2 linked regions of the Homo sapiens genome follow. The protein of the gene in region 1 interacts with the protein of each later gene in a pairwise test. Each region holds a gene or a part of one and is shown in the gene's direction. Other genes may lie near its edges. The genes, in order: ASTE1 and XRCC4.

Region 1 (8,053 bases):
ACAAATCACTTGCCAACCAACCAGCCCCAGCCCCCTTTCTTCTCTCTCATTCTCTTTCTCTCTCTCTTCCCCGCTGACTACAAACACACTCTCTCCACTCACTTATTATCTTAAGTCTAAAGGTTTCAAGTTTGATCTTCATACATCTTATTTTACATCCTTTTAATTAACTTTTTAGTCCTCCTGTGAATTATCTTAAAATTTTTCATATTCCTCATTAGTTGAAGAAACCAAAATTGGATATGATCCTACAGTGTAGTTTTTAGAAGTACTGGGTCTGGTTTAGGTCTTACTCTCAATGTTTCCATAAAGGTTATCTAATAATTGTCAGAAATTTATCATTCTATTCTAAATGGCTAGAAGAGCACCTCTAGGATTAAAGAGAAAAAATCCTTTTCAGCAGGAATCATAATGCATGTTCTAAGGACATCAGAAAAATGCCAGCTCTTTTATCATCCCTCATGTAGAAATTGACTAAAAACTATAAATTCTAGATAATTACAGCTTTTAAAAATTCTGGACAGAGACCATTTAAAAGATTGAGTTTTAAAACAAAGTAGTAACATCACTAACATTTACCTTTACAATTCCTATGACCTATGAAGATGTAGAAAAGTGTTTATCACACTGATTTTAAATCCACTCTTAAATATCCAATAGGCAAAAGCTGGAAGAACTTAGAGTAGCCTTAAAACCTTAGAAGAAAACAATATATTATGGGATGAAAATGTGGTCTTCTGGGGTTAAGGGCTGATATCTTGGATCATTCTTCCTTCTGCTTTCTGTTCCTCCTGTGTTTCTGATAGGCAAGTTTCTTACCCTAACTTCAGTTCCAACTTACTTTCCACTGCAGCAAATTAAAAAAACTTTACACAAAAACTAGAGGTTTATCTGTAAGGGAGGTACTGTCTGAAGCTATTAAGAGTTTTTCTCTACTATGAAAGTGTAGAGGGTCCGATCATAATCAAAAGAGACGAGGTGACAAGGGGGTCATTAACATAAGCTAATTTTAAATAGGAGTGTCCATTTGGTTTAAGTGTTTAATCTGACAGCTTTCTGACTACGGAATTTGAAAATCCTCGCCATGGAAAGCCCAAAGAAAATTAATACTGTTACTTTCTTTGGTATACCCTATTCATCTCAAATGTGAATAATTGTTTATTTGCATTTTGTAACATTTCTAAAAATAGTCATTATGAACAATTCTTATTTTCTCATTCAAGAAGTTCCAATCAAGTTAAGTGGAAGTAATATTGTCACTGAGACTGTGGCATGCCCAAACATCTTATTTTCACATAATCTATCCCATTTCTAGCTCCCTTCTTTAGGTCATTTGGATACTTTATTCACCTGCTGAAATGCCTTTAAACCTAATATGAAAGATTAATTAGGGAGCTTACCTATATTTATGAAATACTTGCTTTGGTATAAAGAGCAAAGTGGACATTACTCCATGTTCTTTTTTTTTTTTTGTCAGTCTTGCTCTGTTGCCCAGGCTGGAGGGCAGTGGCATGATCTCGGCTCACTGCAACCTCCACCTCCTGGGTTTAAGCAATTCTTGTGCCTCAACCTCCAAGTAGCTGAGATCACAGGCATGTACCACCCTGCCTGGCTAATTTTTGTATTTTTAGTAGAGACAGGGTTTTGCCATGTTGGCCAGGCTGGTCTTGAACTCCTCGCCTCAAGTGATCTGCCAACCTTGGCCACCCACAGTGCTGGGATTACAGGCATGAGCCACCATACCTGGCCTGCTCCATGTTCCTAATCAGCTAAGACCTGCAAACAAAAAGCAGCCTACTCAAGATTCATAGGAAGCATTTTTACTTACAATTCCTCTCCTCGTTTGGCTTTCTTGTCTGAAACCAGATAGACAGTTCCAAAACTTCCACTGCCAAGTTTTTGTTGAAGCACGTATCTTCTTGCAATCAAGGTCTTTGGATAAGTGGAAATGGCTGTTGATCCACTCACACACTTAGCTGCCTCTTGGAATTTCAGCATTGCTCCAAACAAGAGAGAACTGGTTCATTCATTTATAGAAACTTAACATTCCAGTCTCCTAAGAAATGGTCAAATTCATCCAGTGTTGGTCAGTTCCTTAAAGATGAAAAGTTAAAAGATCAGGTCTAAAGGTTGCTAAACGATGTCTAACAAAAAGTGTTAAGTGCAGTGATATCTGCACCTTGATCAGCAGACTGACACCATATTGGTTAACAACTTGAAAAAAAATGTTAAAAGGTAGAGATACCACAAATTCCAGAAGGCAATCTTTCACAGGAAGAGCCTCCCTTTGTACATTGAAATTTGGCAGAAGTGAATTATAGCCAACTTTCCACAAATTTCTGGGATGTACATCTGTTTTACAATGAGCAATCTCTTCATTTATTTAAGATTTATACTCCCCAACTACTTATAAAAGAATCCAAATACAAGAACATTATCACCTCCTTAAATCTATACATCTGCATCAACCTTTTTGTAATGCCCTCTTCTCACCTTATATTTACTTTGGTTTACAAAGAGTGAGTTAGGATTAAACAAGGAATTAGCAGGTGCTGTTTCCTTTAGATTTATTTTTTTCTGTAGATGTTAAACCACAGTTTTTGTATTTATTAGGACAGATGCAAAGAAGGATAAGGATTGAGAATTTTTTCCCATGCTCAGCAAATTCTAGTTTCTGAAGTTCCTATTGTACACATTGTGTATAATCTCTCTGGATTAAAAACAGGAAGAGTTACAAATTCAATTCAAACCTAAAATCCCATTTAATGTCAGTGGAATATAAATGCTACAGATAAATCTGTAATTCCTCAGGGAGCTATGAGACGTGGCAGTTATGAAAGGCAGGACTGTTTAGGCCGGGCGCAGTGGCTCACGCCTGTAGTACCAGCACTTTGGGAGGCCAAGGCGGGCGGATCACGAGGTCAGGAGATCGAGACCATCCTGGCTAACACGGTGAAACCCCGTCTAATACAAAAAAATTAGCCGGGCATTGTAGCGGGCGCCTGCAGTCCCAGCTACTCGGGAGGCTGAGGCAGGAGAATAGCGTGAACCCAGGAGGCGGAGCTTGCAGTGAGATCTCGCCACTGCACTCCAGCCTGGGCGACAGAGTAAGACTCCATCTCAACAAAAACAAAAACAAAAACAAAAACAAAAAAAAGAAAGGCAGGACTGTTTCATATGAGTAGGTACAAAGTAAAATCACTTTTATTTCATCAGAATGTTAAATGTTTTGTTAGTTATCAAGAAAAGTGTGCTTTTGTTTTAAATCTATATAGAAATAACATTTTAAATTGAAAACTGCCTACACCTTGAAGTTAGGTTTTCATATTCAACAATTCCAAAGCTATGAGACAAAAACCTAGTTTTTAAGGATGGTCAATGGGCTTTACGTGGTGGTGTCCGTCAACCACAAAAACTACTAGGGCAATTAACCACAAAAATCCTCAAAACAGAACATAAGTAAATGCCCATTTACAACATTTTCCTTCTTAAAATGTATGAATCAGTTAAGTTGTACCTAATACCAGTGAGATTAGTTACCAGCTTTTTCTTTTCCCTTCCAAAGACACGTTAGTAAAATCTGCTGGAAAAACAACTACAGAGCAGGCCTCTAAATATACCTTTTGTTTTTACTTCCCCTTCACTGTCATAAAAGTGATGCCGTCTGGCCATACTAAGCTGTTCAAATAAATATATGGACTTACAGACTTTCCAGCTGAAAAGGGTCCTTCAGGTCACTCAGTAATTCTCCTTATTTTAAAGATGAGATTAAGGTTCCTTTTAGAGAAGGACAGAATTAGGGACGGACAGAATGAGAAGTTCACTTCTAGCGGCTCTTATTTTAAAGGACAGTCTAAACCCAGCAGTGCTTAAGTAGTCTGGTCCAGGCTGCAGAAGACTCTGGGACTAGGTTCCCTCCCGCCCACCCTCACAGACTCAGCCCTGCCACCCCCATCCCAGTCCACTTTTAGGTCATCCATTCCATTAGTCTCCTCTGCGCAACCATAAACCTACCCAAGAATGTGTCGCATTGTCTAGATTCTAGAACTATCTGTTCACTTGACAACACGCTCCCCCTCGAGGTTTGAGTGAACTTGGGCACTGCGAACACATCTTCTTTATTTCTGCATCCCCAATCCCTGGCATACCTCCTGGCATATACTAGGTGTTTAACAAACCTTGTTAAGGCAAGTAAGTGTCCAGCAGATCAACTGCCGCCCAAAGGAGAGAAAAAAGGTTAGTTAAGAAAGCTAGATGGGAACTTGGAGAAAGTTACTACCTTGTGCAAACTACCCGTTCTCGGTGAAACAGATCTGGCTGGGGGCAAAAGACAACGGAAGGAGTATTTATCACAAGTTGAAAACCAGTAGTTATCTTCCCAGGTAATAAGAGGAAGGCAATTTGTCACCAGTTTCTGCTACAGCACAAATCTACCTTTAAAGTAAATCTTAACCTTAAGGTAAAACGAACAATTCCTTGCTTCTTCACCTTTTTAAACATTTACATTTTGGCAAAGCAGGTTAACGTTTATTGAGGGGCACTGAGACTGGAGTACATCCGGAGGTAAGATGTCCAGGAAAGCGAGGAGATCGCAGCCATGGCGTCCTAGAGATTCGGAACCCAGCCCGGGCAGCTTGAAACCATTACCTTCCCCCTCGCAGGGGAGCCTGGCTAGCCCCAAGGAGGACAGTTCGCTTTACCTTTCCCTGTCGTGGTCGGAGCGGCGCCCGGGGCTGCCCAAGTCTTGCGGGTAATCGGGCAGGCCTCAAACTAGGGGCAACCACACCCACCGAGCGCCAGACACCGCGGGCCACGGCTGTTTGGAACCGTGGCCAGGGAGACGGCGCGGGGCATACTGGGAAGTCGGGGCGAGGCGGCACCAAGGCGGAAGTGTTCGCCGACCCAAGTAGGCGGAGAAAGCAGAGGAGGACCGGCGGGCCAAGCTTTCCTAGCCTGACAGCAGCCATTTCGGAACGTACGTCCCAGCCCTCTTTAGCTACTTAGCGCCTCTGGGCCCGAGAACACCTGCTCCTTGGCTCAGTCTGGCGCCACCGGCATCACGGAACTGTACTTCCCAGAGACGTCACACCGGGAGACTTCCGATTCCCGCTCTTGAGATTGGACTCTCACGTGCAGGAGCCAGTCCTCGCTGGGCTCTAGCGGGCTTCTGATGGAGGAGCTACTCCTCTGGGAGGACAGAGTAGGTGGGCTCTGCTGCAGGTCCGGGCGGCGGGTTGTGAGGGCCGAGGTGGCACGGTGTATGAAGGCCTGTGTTTGAAGACTTAGGTCAGACCTTTTGCCCGCCTTTCCCCTATGCAGCTCTATGCAACTGTCTGTGCAAGGTCCTGTAATTTGCGTAGGACGCCTTGACACAGTCTCTGCTTATGGACGCTTTACAAAACTATCTTGCAAAGAAATAAGTACTATACAGGATAAGGTTCTGAGATACTGACAGGGCTGGAACTAGGGTGAGATAAGTGTAAAATGTAAATGGATGCCAATAAAATTCAGTAATCAAGGTAAGTTTTAATGCAATCTCTAAAAATCAAAATTATAGCAAAAAAAATCCATGACTGACAAAATGTCACGATTTTAAGTAATAGTAACAGTACCGTGCTGTGCCATATTGAAGCCCGAGGTGTCAAAAGAAAAACCATCAATTCTGATCCTGCGAGTTAAGTTAGCCAGGTGAGGAAGCGTAGCTGGGCCAGATATGCAAAATAAGATGATGAAAAGAGCTCGTGGTTAGGGGTGTAACTGGATAGAGGGGTTCCTAGAGGCATGAAGCAGTTTTCCTTATACCAAAAACTATGCCAATTAAGAAGGGCCCACAAATCCAAAGCCTGAAAGAAGTTCCGTGACTGATTGTCAATACAAAAGAAAAACTTGATCCTTATCATAGGTCCTACACACCTTACTTTACTGAAGCCCAAATGCTTTGTGATTATGAGATGAATATGATATCTTTTTTTTAGCTTAGGACTTTTTACTTTGACCCCACAAAACAAATACTCTGTGCTGTAAGATGTTGACTATTACCACTTAAGAATCAAAGTTCACAGAACTTCTATACTGGTGTGTCAGTAATGGACTTCAACTGATTTTTCTTTAGAATTAGCAGCAGCCTCTGTCACCATCCAAAGATTACAACCCATGAAACCATTGAATTTGTGCCTTGTATCAGAAAGCAAAGGAGAATGAAAAAGCACAGCTAACATTGCTTGAGGATCTAGGTAAGAATTTATGATGTTGATATCTATGTTCTATCTAAAGAGCACTTCATAACATTTGCTATTGATTTAATGGTGCTGGAAGCAATGACTTGGTGCCCCATAACTAGCATCAATTGAAAATGTTTTCTGTTGTTTTAAACAGGCGATTAATTCTTTAGACTGTCATCATGGGTATCCGAGGACTAATGAGTTTTGTGGAAGATCATAGTAATGAGTTCTTCACTGATTTGAAGTTGCGGGACACAAAAATTGTCATTGATGGTTATGCTCTTTTCCACCGTCTTTGCTTCAGTTCAAACTTGGATCTCCGGTATGGAGGGGACTATGATTCTTTTGCAGATGTTGTACAAAAATTCTTTGAATCACTGTTTGCTTGTAATATATGCCCATATGTTGTATTAGATGGAGGATGTGACATTTCAGATAAAAAGCTTACAACTTTAAAGGATAGAGCTAGAGAGAAGATCCAGATGGCCCATTCCCTTTCTGTTGGTGGGAGTGGGTACGTATGTCCCTTACTCATCCGGGAAGTATTCATACAGGTTTTGATCAAGCTGCGGGTGTGTTTTGTCCAGTGCTTTTCAGAAGCAGATCGGGACATTATGACACTTGCTAACCATTGGAATTGCCCTGTGTTATCATCAGATAGTGACTTTTGCATTTTTGACCTGAAAACTGGGTTTTGCCCATTGAATAGCTTTCAGTGGAGAAATATGAACACTATTAAGGGCACACAAAACTATATCCCTGCCAAATGCTTTTCCCTTGATGCATTCTGCCATCACTTCAGCAATATGAATAAAGCTCTACTACCTCTCTTTGCGGTGCTATGTGGAAATGACCATGTTAATCTACCCATCATGGAGACATTCTTAAGTAAAGCGCGTCTTCCTCTTGGAGCTACCAGTTCTAAAGGGAGGAGACACCACCGAATCCTGGGACTTCTGAATTGGTTGTCTCATTTTGCCAACCCTACCGAAGCACTAGATAATGTTCTGAAATACCTCCCAAAAAAGGATCGAGAAAATGTTAAGGAACTTCTCTGCTGTTCCATGGAAGAATACCAACAGTCCCAGGTGAAGCTACAGGACTTCTTCCAGTGTGGTACTTATGTCTGTCCAGATGCCTTGAATCTTGGTTTACCAGAATGGGTATTAGTGGCTTTAGCTAAAGGCCAGCTATCTCCTTTCATCAGTGATGCTTTGGTCCTAAGACGGACCATTCTTCCCACACAGGTGGAAAACATGCAGCAACCAAATGCCCACAGAATATCTCAGCCCATCAGGCAAATCATCTATGGGCTTCTTTTAAATGCCTCACCACATCTGGACAAGACATCCTGGAATGCATTGCCTCCTCAGCCTCTAGCTTTCAGTGAAGTGGAAAGGATTAATAAAAATATCAGAACCTCAATCATTGATGCAGTAGAACTGGCCAAGGATCATTCTGACTTAAGCAGATTGACTGAGGTAAGTATTTGTAATACTAATGAAATTTTTGTAAAGTACTTTACAGGATACAAAGTGCTGTCTTCTATATTAGTTCACTTACTATAACAAACTGATGAGGTTGAGTGCTATCTTGCCCTCATGTCGTAGCTAAGAAATCTAGAACTTGAGTGAACTAGGTAATGTCTTAGCCAGAAAGTGTCAGTGCTAGGACTCAAACCTAGCTCTTTTAGCTCTAAATCTACCATTTCCACTGTACTTCAGTAGTCTGTGTTATCGTCACAGTTATTACTACTATATTGTTATTACTACCAGGTTAATACTAGCTATCAATAGAATGGGTTACGTGGCTGAAAAAAAAAGGAAAAAAAT
Region 2 (7,767 bases), on another chromosome or scaffold:
ATGGAACCCTTTCATGGGTTCATAAGATCAGAACTATTTTTATAATACTAAGATACTTGCCTTTTAACTGTGATGCCATTTTCATGGATGATGCAAAAGCAATATTAGCAACAGAATTATCTGAACTGCTACCTCCTCACCCACTCCTGACATAAAAAATTTGCTTTTCTTAATATTTTTGTGCAATTAATGGTATTGTTGCATAGTTGAAAGGGCACAGCATTTCGTGACAAATTGGTTCCGTTTAAATCTTAGCTCTGCTATTTATAAGCAGTGTGATGTTGGGCAAGACACTTGGCTCTCCGCATCTGTTTCTTCATATGAAAAATGTGGCCAATAATACGACTTTAATAAAACCTTGTATGTAAAATAAAACACCTGTCAGAGTAGGTGCTTAACGAAAACAGTAAGCCCTCACTTAACGTCATCCACAGGTCCTTGGAAAATGCAACTTTAAGCCAAAAGATATATAACAAAAAAAATTTACCATAGGCGAATTGATATAAACAAGAGTTAAGTTCCGATGGCATATTTCTAGTCACAAAAGCATCACCAAACTTCCAAATCAATATCAAAACCCTTCTAATATTCAACACTGAAGTAAATGTGAGTTATACATCCACTTAAGAAAGATTAATAAAAACAAGTAAGATAGCTGGCTATTTGCTATTTCAGTTCAGTGTTGACGGTGCCGGGAGCCATCCCAGTAGCCTGGAGTATAGGACATCATTCCAGTGCAGAGCACTCAAACTGGGAGAGTGTAGACACCTCAACAAACCCATTGTATATATCTCTGGGATGTAGAAGGGAACTGGAGTACCAAGAGAAAATCCATGCAGACATGGGAAGAACAGACATGAAGACAACGTGCAATTGGGAATGGAGTTTCTTCCTCATACACGTTATTGAGGATCTGCTGTATTTCTTTCCCATCCAATAAATCATCCAAGCTGGAGCTGTGCTTCATCACCCTTCATTAAGTATCTTCAAAACGATTTTCCTAGTTTTCCTTTCCTTTCAACCCAACTGCTCATCAGAGTTGAGACATTCAATCATTGTATACCTGAACTACAGCACTTGTTTTCAAGCTGGTCTCCCAGATTCTAATCTTCCTCCATTTAAATATACTCTATGTTGTTACCAGTTGGTTTTCTAAAATGCACACCTTTTATTTCCCTGCTCCAAAGCCTTTATCAAGTAAGCAATTAAACATCATCAAAATATAAAGTCTTTGGCATGGCACAAAGCTCTTCAAAATCTGGCCCCAATCTTTCTAGCCTCATCTATCACCAGTCCACTATACTTGACTTCTTTTTATTCCTGCCACATTAAGGCTCCATGCAACTATTGAACTTCATGCCTTTTGTTCCCATAACTGCCATTTCCTTTATCTACGGGATAGAGATTGCTGTCCCACCTCTAGCTAATGACTCCTTCCCTAATACTCTTTAAAGTACAGGTGAGAGAGAATTACTTCTTTCTTGGGGACATCTCTCAAGCAGTTCCCAGCCAGTACTACTCCTTCCACTGTGTTTAATGATTTTCTACATATCTTCTGCTATAAGAGGAGAGAAAATACTTCACATCTATTCTCTGGAGACTCAGTTTAATTATGAAATGTGGGCAATCATTCCTGCTTTGCAGAGTTTGTGAAAATCATTTAGTGCACCAAGAAAAAGACATGAAAATAAACTCCCTTAGAGTTAACCAAGTAAAGGTTCGGAACTGGAAATGATTCTAACTCTGTTTGGCTCAGTCTAAACCCATGCTCTCTCTACTACATGTGTTGTCTTGCTACAACATAGCAGACAACAGATGGAATTTACTTATTTAATAATTTCCCCCACTGGACTGTGAAATCCTTGAAGACACTGAGCATGTTTGTATCCCCAGACTCTTTTTTTTTTTTTGAGATGGAGTTTCGCTCTTGTTGTCCAGGCTGGAGTGCAATGGCACAATCTCGACACACCGCAACCTCCACCTCCTGGGTTCAAGTGATTCTCCTGCCTCAGCCTCCCAAGTAGCTGGGATTACAGGCATGTGCCACCACGCCCGGCTAATTTTTTATTTTTAGTAGAGATGGGGTTTCTCCACACTGGTCAGGCTGGTCTCCAACTCCCGACCTCAGTTGATCTACCCACCTTGGCCTCCCAAAGTGCTGAGATTACAGGCCCAGACTCTTAATGGAGTAATAACTCCAGCTGGCACTGTGACTGTAGAGATTAAAATACCTAGTCTTTAAGAATTCTGCCTAGAGAGGGAGAAATGCAGGCAACACCTTATTGCTGTTTTCTGTGAAAAGGGTTATGCTAGAGGGATACTGGAAGTATACATATGAACTAGGAATATCCCTATAGATACCTAAAGAGAGTAGAAGAAAATAGAAGGGGTTAAGGGAGGCTTTTTGGAAAGAGATGAGACATGAGAGAAATGTTGAAGGATGTTAGGTGTTGGGGGGAACAAGGCATTCTGAAATTCTTTAAAAGTATTAATTCACAAGTGCTACAATTACTGTTCATGCTGACAGTTGTAAATTATTACTGCTGATAAACATTTTATCCTTGAAATGCTTTTTAAAAAGATTCTTGGCTGGGGACGGTGGCTCACGCCTGTAATCCCAGCACTTTGGGAGGCTGAGGTGGGAGGATCACGAGGTCAAGAGATCGAGACCATCTTGGCCAACATGGTGAAACCTCGTCTCTACTAAAAATACAAAAATTAGCCAGGCGTGGTTGTGCACGCCTGTAGTCCCAGCTACTCGGGAGGCTGAGGCAGGAGAATTGCTTGAACCCAGGAAGCAGAGGTTGCAGTGAGCTGAGATTATGCCACTGCACTCCAGCCTGGGCAACAGAGGGAGACTCCATCTCAAAAAAAAAAAAAATCATTAAAATACAGTAATTCAGGTTTATTAAGTCATTACCATTGGGTTACCTCACAAATAAACTAAGTTTAGATGCGAACTCAAAGATACTGAGACACTAATCCATTTCTTAAGCTGCTAAGTTAGCCTTCTTGAAACCTCACTTCGTAGCTCTGCAAACAATGTACTTTTGACATCCCAAGCTCACAGGAATAAAAAACCACCTGCCAGTTGTTTCCGTTTTCCACCTATGTCTAATTTATGTACTTATATTTATAAGAAACAAATCACTAAGTCTTATTTCATCCTTAGTTATGTTGTGTTTCTATCGATAACAGCATGAAGATTTCGGGGACCTGGACATTAAAATAAGTTTGAGTACTGGCTTTACAATCTACTAGGTGTGATCCGAGGCAAGTCAGTCTCTTCATGTTTCACTTCTTTCACTTGTAAACATCTATTCAGAAGTTGCTGTGAACTTGATATTTCCATGCTTATAAACTGATTTTTTGAAAAGAGCCTGGTACATAGGACGTGATAATAAATGAAAGCATTTGCTACTTTTGGAAAAACAAGCATGACAAGATAGTTTATATACTGTTGATCTTAAGCACAGTATATGCATCTTATTTTTAGCTAGTCTGACAGTGAGATAATAAAAAGAGTTATCTTTGACTTGCACTACGAGTAGAAGAATTCAACTTCAGTTTCTAGAAAGATGTATAAGAATTAAGAGTGGCAGTCTTCCTAGTCTCAACTGCCATCTTCCCACCAGGTGGTAAATTCGTCCAGAGAAGAAAATGAATTATTGCTATATGGGATTCTGCAGCAACTTCTGTGAACATAGGCTCATAATTTTTCACCATGGAGACTCAAGCTTTTTGGAGTCATAGTTGTTTTTGGGTCTATTTGCAGGCATGCATCCTTTGTCCAGAAATATACATAACATTTGGCACATGGACCTGGAGGTAAAAGAGGAGGAAGGCCTGAGGCTAGACACCACTCCAATAAGTACATTAAGCTCCTAGAAGGGCAATCCACCTTTGCAGAGAACTCTTAACTATTAAAACCTATAGCTTGTAAAGCAGCATTTTCAAAGTTAAGAGAAGAAGGTGGAAGGGTCTTGAGAGGCTACTGACTAAACAGATGAAAATGAAGGTATGGAGTTTGGTGCCAAAAGAAACTCCCCCCAAAAATCAAACAATAACACCAGAGTAAAGCCCCTAGGGCGAGATAAGGAGTTGCAACAAAACAAGCGGAAACTCGAGAAGCGCTAATGCTTCAAAGGGTCAATGACCACACATAATCTACGTAGCCAACGTGTTAAAACACACCAACGCATTTTTTTTTCCTAAACAAAGTAGGAAAGCGGACTTTGCATGAGGGGCGGGCTGCCGACCCAGCAGTCTTCCTCGGACAGTCCGTCCTGATTCTCTCTGGTTGGCCGTGGAGGGACCACATGGCTCCAAGGCCTCTCAGCTCCGGGCCCACACACCCCGGGCTGCCGCACAAACTCCAGCCCTAGTCTAGATCCACAACCCCTTCTCGAAGATCAACCGCGACCTGGGAGCCCCACTTCTTACCATAGCGAGGCCGGCGATGCCGCAGCCACATCACCCTTCCGGGGCTCAGGCGGAAGAGGCTGCATGTCCCGTCTGCCCTTCTCGCCCTCTCCAGCCGTCCGGTTGGGCTTGTCACGGCACCGCCTACCAAGACGGGCGGTTAAGACACTAGGATAGGCTCCTCTCCACCGGAAAAGGCGGGATTTAGATCACGTCCCGCAGGCCGGCGGAAGTAGCTGATACTCTCATTGGTTGCAAAACCTTGATCTGTGAAAGCGGGCGTTTTGGAAGATACCGGAAGTAGAGTCACGGAGAGGTAGGATCCGGAAGTGGGGCTGCCTCTTTAAATAACAAAAATCTGAGGTTCTGTTCTTTTTATCTTTTTGCTTTCTTTTTAAAAAAGTTCCCTGCTACTTACCCCTAGAACTCCACAATGCGAGAATCCCCCTCAATTTGTGAGCTCCCGCGACTTCCTCTTGTGGGCTTTTGGGGATGCTAGGGTTCTCGGCATTATCCTCAGGGTGCGACCTGTTCACCCCCTTTTCAGTTTCTCCGTTTGCATCTGAGGGATTCTTGGGAATGCGAAGCACTTTTGAAATGCTCTGTGTTGGTTGTGGGATTGGGAGGACGGTTGAATCCAGAGGGTAGTGTTGAGTAGGCTGTTTGAGCATTTCCCCAGCACTGGCCTGTCCTTTCAATCCCCAGATATTGGTAAACTGTGGGTTCCAACCAGGCATCGAGGCTGAAACGTACTAGGCAATTTGAGGTCAGGAAAGAACTTTCTGTGGTAACCAATGGGAAGGAACTGCCGTTTGCGGACTGCAGCGATTGATTAGGTACTTTAAAGAGATCAACTGGCAAGACAAATGACAAGGCAACTTTTAATCAGTAGTAGTATTTAGCTTTTTCTGATTTTAATTATCCCATTAGGTGAGGTTCTACTACACACACACGTTTTTCTTTCTGCATTTTATCGATGGAGAAACAGGCGCTTTGACATGTTTGAATTTGCGTAGTTCTTGGAATTCTAATAAAGTATTAGAAATGAGAGTTTTTCACTCTTTGCCCCCTTATGGCAAGCTTTTGGTTCTAAATGTGTGGTGTATTTTTTCTCAGGCAGGAGAGAGTTCTTTTCAGAATGTTTTCAATTTTTTATGGACTTAGAAGGTGGATAGAGAGAAAGAGAGAAGGTAACTCACGTGAGATTTTGGTTTATGAACTGTATTCGGCCTATGAGACCCTTTTGTATTTAGGGCAACACAATGATTAGAAGATTTGGGATTCTGCTATTTGTGTTTACATTGTTCACTAGGGCACACAAAGGTTTTGTTTTAAACTATAACTAACTTGATATTTGAGTCTGTTATATTGAATTGTCAAGAGTTGGTCAAATACACAAATTAGCAAGTATTTACTGGGTGCCTGCTTTATTCATGGATCTTCAGATTGCAGCATAGGAACAAAGATGGTCTGTTCCTTTAAGGAATTTAATAAGGTTGGGGGAGAGGGGAATAAGAAAGGTATTTAAAAGATACAGTACTCTCCACCTAAGGATAAAAAAAGTCTTTTAATGTTCTGTCTTGTAATTCCTTTATATTATACCTTTTAGGTCTTGCCATTCAAATTAAACAAACCTGGTTTAGTTATGGAAATTATGTTGTGCAATTTATCGAGCTTGGCTTTTAGGGCAGTAAATGTGTCTGTAGACATAACTGCCCTTGGTTTCATGTGAAGATTGTCTTGATCTTTGTTACATATAAAGGTAATACTTCTGTATGAAGCTCTGCTTCAGGCTACCTGTGAAAAGCATCAGAAAGCTTAACTTGTTAGAGATCACAATTGATTTGCTATATCTATATATTTTAATTAATTTTAGGCTATGACTTCTTATGTACCTGAGCTTCAAAACAGTAAAGAACGGCATTGCCAGTTTTTAAGTTATCTATAGAGAAACACATATGCCAATAAATGAGGCTGAACAAATATGTATAATGTTTATTGCATTTATGTAAAACATCAAAGTTAATCTGACGTGGTGAGTTTTTTTTGGGAGGTGGTAGTTTAGCTCCATTGTCTTACATAAACCCCCTACTTTTTGGTTTTCAGATTATATCACAATTTCTAAAATCTTTCTGGCAGCTTTGCAGTGAATCCTCATTTAAAACCATCTTGGATCCTTTCCTTACTAGAAATAAAATCTGTCTGTGTTATTCCTTTGTTCAAAAATTATTATTTATTTTTATTTTTGAGACAGGATCTTGCTCTGTTGCCCAGGGTGGAGTGCAGTGGCACAATCATGACTCACTGCAGCCTCAACCTCCAGGGCAGAAGCGATCTATCCTCCTCCCTCAGTATCCCCAGTAACCGGGACCATGGTTGCATGCCACCATACTTGGCTAATTTTATTTTATTTTTTGTAGAGACAGGGCTCACTATGTTGCCTAGGCTGGTCTCAAACTCCTGGGCTCAAGTGATCCTCCCGCCTCGGCCTCCCAAAGTGCTGGGATTACAGGTGTAGGCCACCGCACCACGTCTGGCCTGTTCAAAAAGTATTATCTCACCTGCATCTGGAAGAATATTTCCAACTTTGGTTTCATGGGTATATTAAAATCGTATGTAAAAATAGTGGATATTTGTAGTTTTCTGTGGCGCCAGTGCACAGGTGTCCTCAGTGTTATGAGGATTACATGAGTTATTACAAGTAAATCATCTAGGCAAATGTTTGGCATACAGTAAGCACTCAGAAAGTGTTGGCTATTACTGTGCATGGCTTTGTCTTTGCTAAATTAAAAGTCCCTGGAGAGGAGGAATTATAATGGAGGAATGGTTGAATTGCATATATTAGGCACTAAATACAGTAGTCCCTCCTTATCTGAGGTTTTGATTTCTGCAGTTTCAGTTACCCATGATCAACCACAGTCTGAAAATATTAAGTAGAAAATTCCAGCCGGGTGCGGTGGCTCATGCCTGTAATTCCAGCACTTTGGGAGACCAAGGCGGGCAGATCACTTGAGGTCAGGAGTTTGAGACCAGCCTGGCCAACATGGTGAAACCCCATCTCTACTAATATACAAAAATTAGCCAGGCGTGGTGGCATGTGCCTGTAGTCCCAGCTAGTCAGGAGGCTGAGGCAGGAGAATCAATTGAACCCGGGAGGTGGAGGCTGCAGTGAGCCGAGATTGTGCCACTGTACTCCTGCGTGGGCAACAGAGCGAGACTCCATCTCAAAAAAAAAAAAAAAAATTCCAGAAATAATGCATACATTTTAAATAGCATGCCTTTCTGAGTTGTGATGAAATCTTATTCCATCCTATCCCATTCAGCCCGGGGCCATGAATCATCTCC

Evidence for each region.
Region 2: the proteins of ASTE1 (region 1) and XRCC4 interact in binary tests that used the Homo sapiens proteins (3 or more experiments, as listed by UniProt).

The regions. Positions count from the first base shown.
Region 1 is NC_000003.12:131,023,654-131,031,706, reverse strand, and holds the start of ASTE1 (single-strand DNA endonuclease ASTE1), read left to right. Parts: upstream 1-4,881; 5' UTR 4,882-5,200; exon of another isoform or gene 5,201-5,204; intron 5,205-6,112; 5' UTR 6,113-6,233; intron 6,234-6,375; 5' UTR 6,376-6,400; coding exon 6,401-7,702; intron 7,703-8,053. Other genes in the region: serine/threonine-protein kinase Nek11, read right to left, coding at 1,829-1,998. UniProt on the Homo sapiens protein: Structure-specific DNA endonuclease that specifically cleaves single-stranded DNA and 3' overhang DNA.
Region 2 is NC_000005.10:83,072,878-83,080,644, forward strand, and holds the start of XRCC4 (DNA repair protein XRCC4), read left to right. Parts: upstream 1-4,669; 5' UTR 4,670-4,738; exon of another isoform or gene 4,739-4,785; intron 4,786-7,767. Other genes in the region: TMEM167A (protein kish-A precursor), read right to left, coding at 4,444-4,446.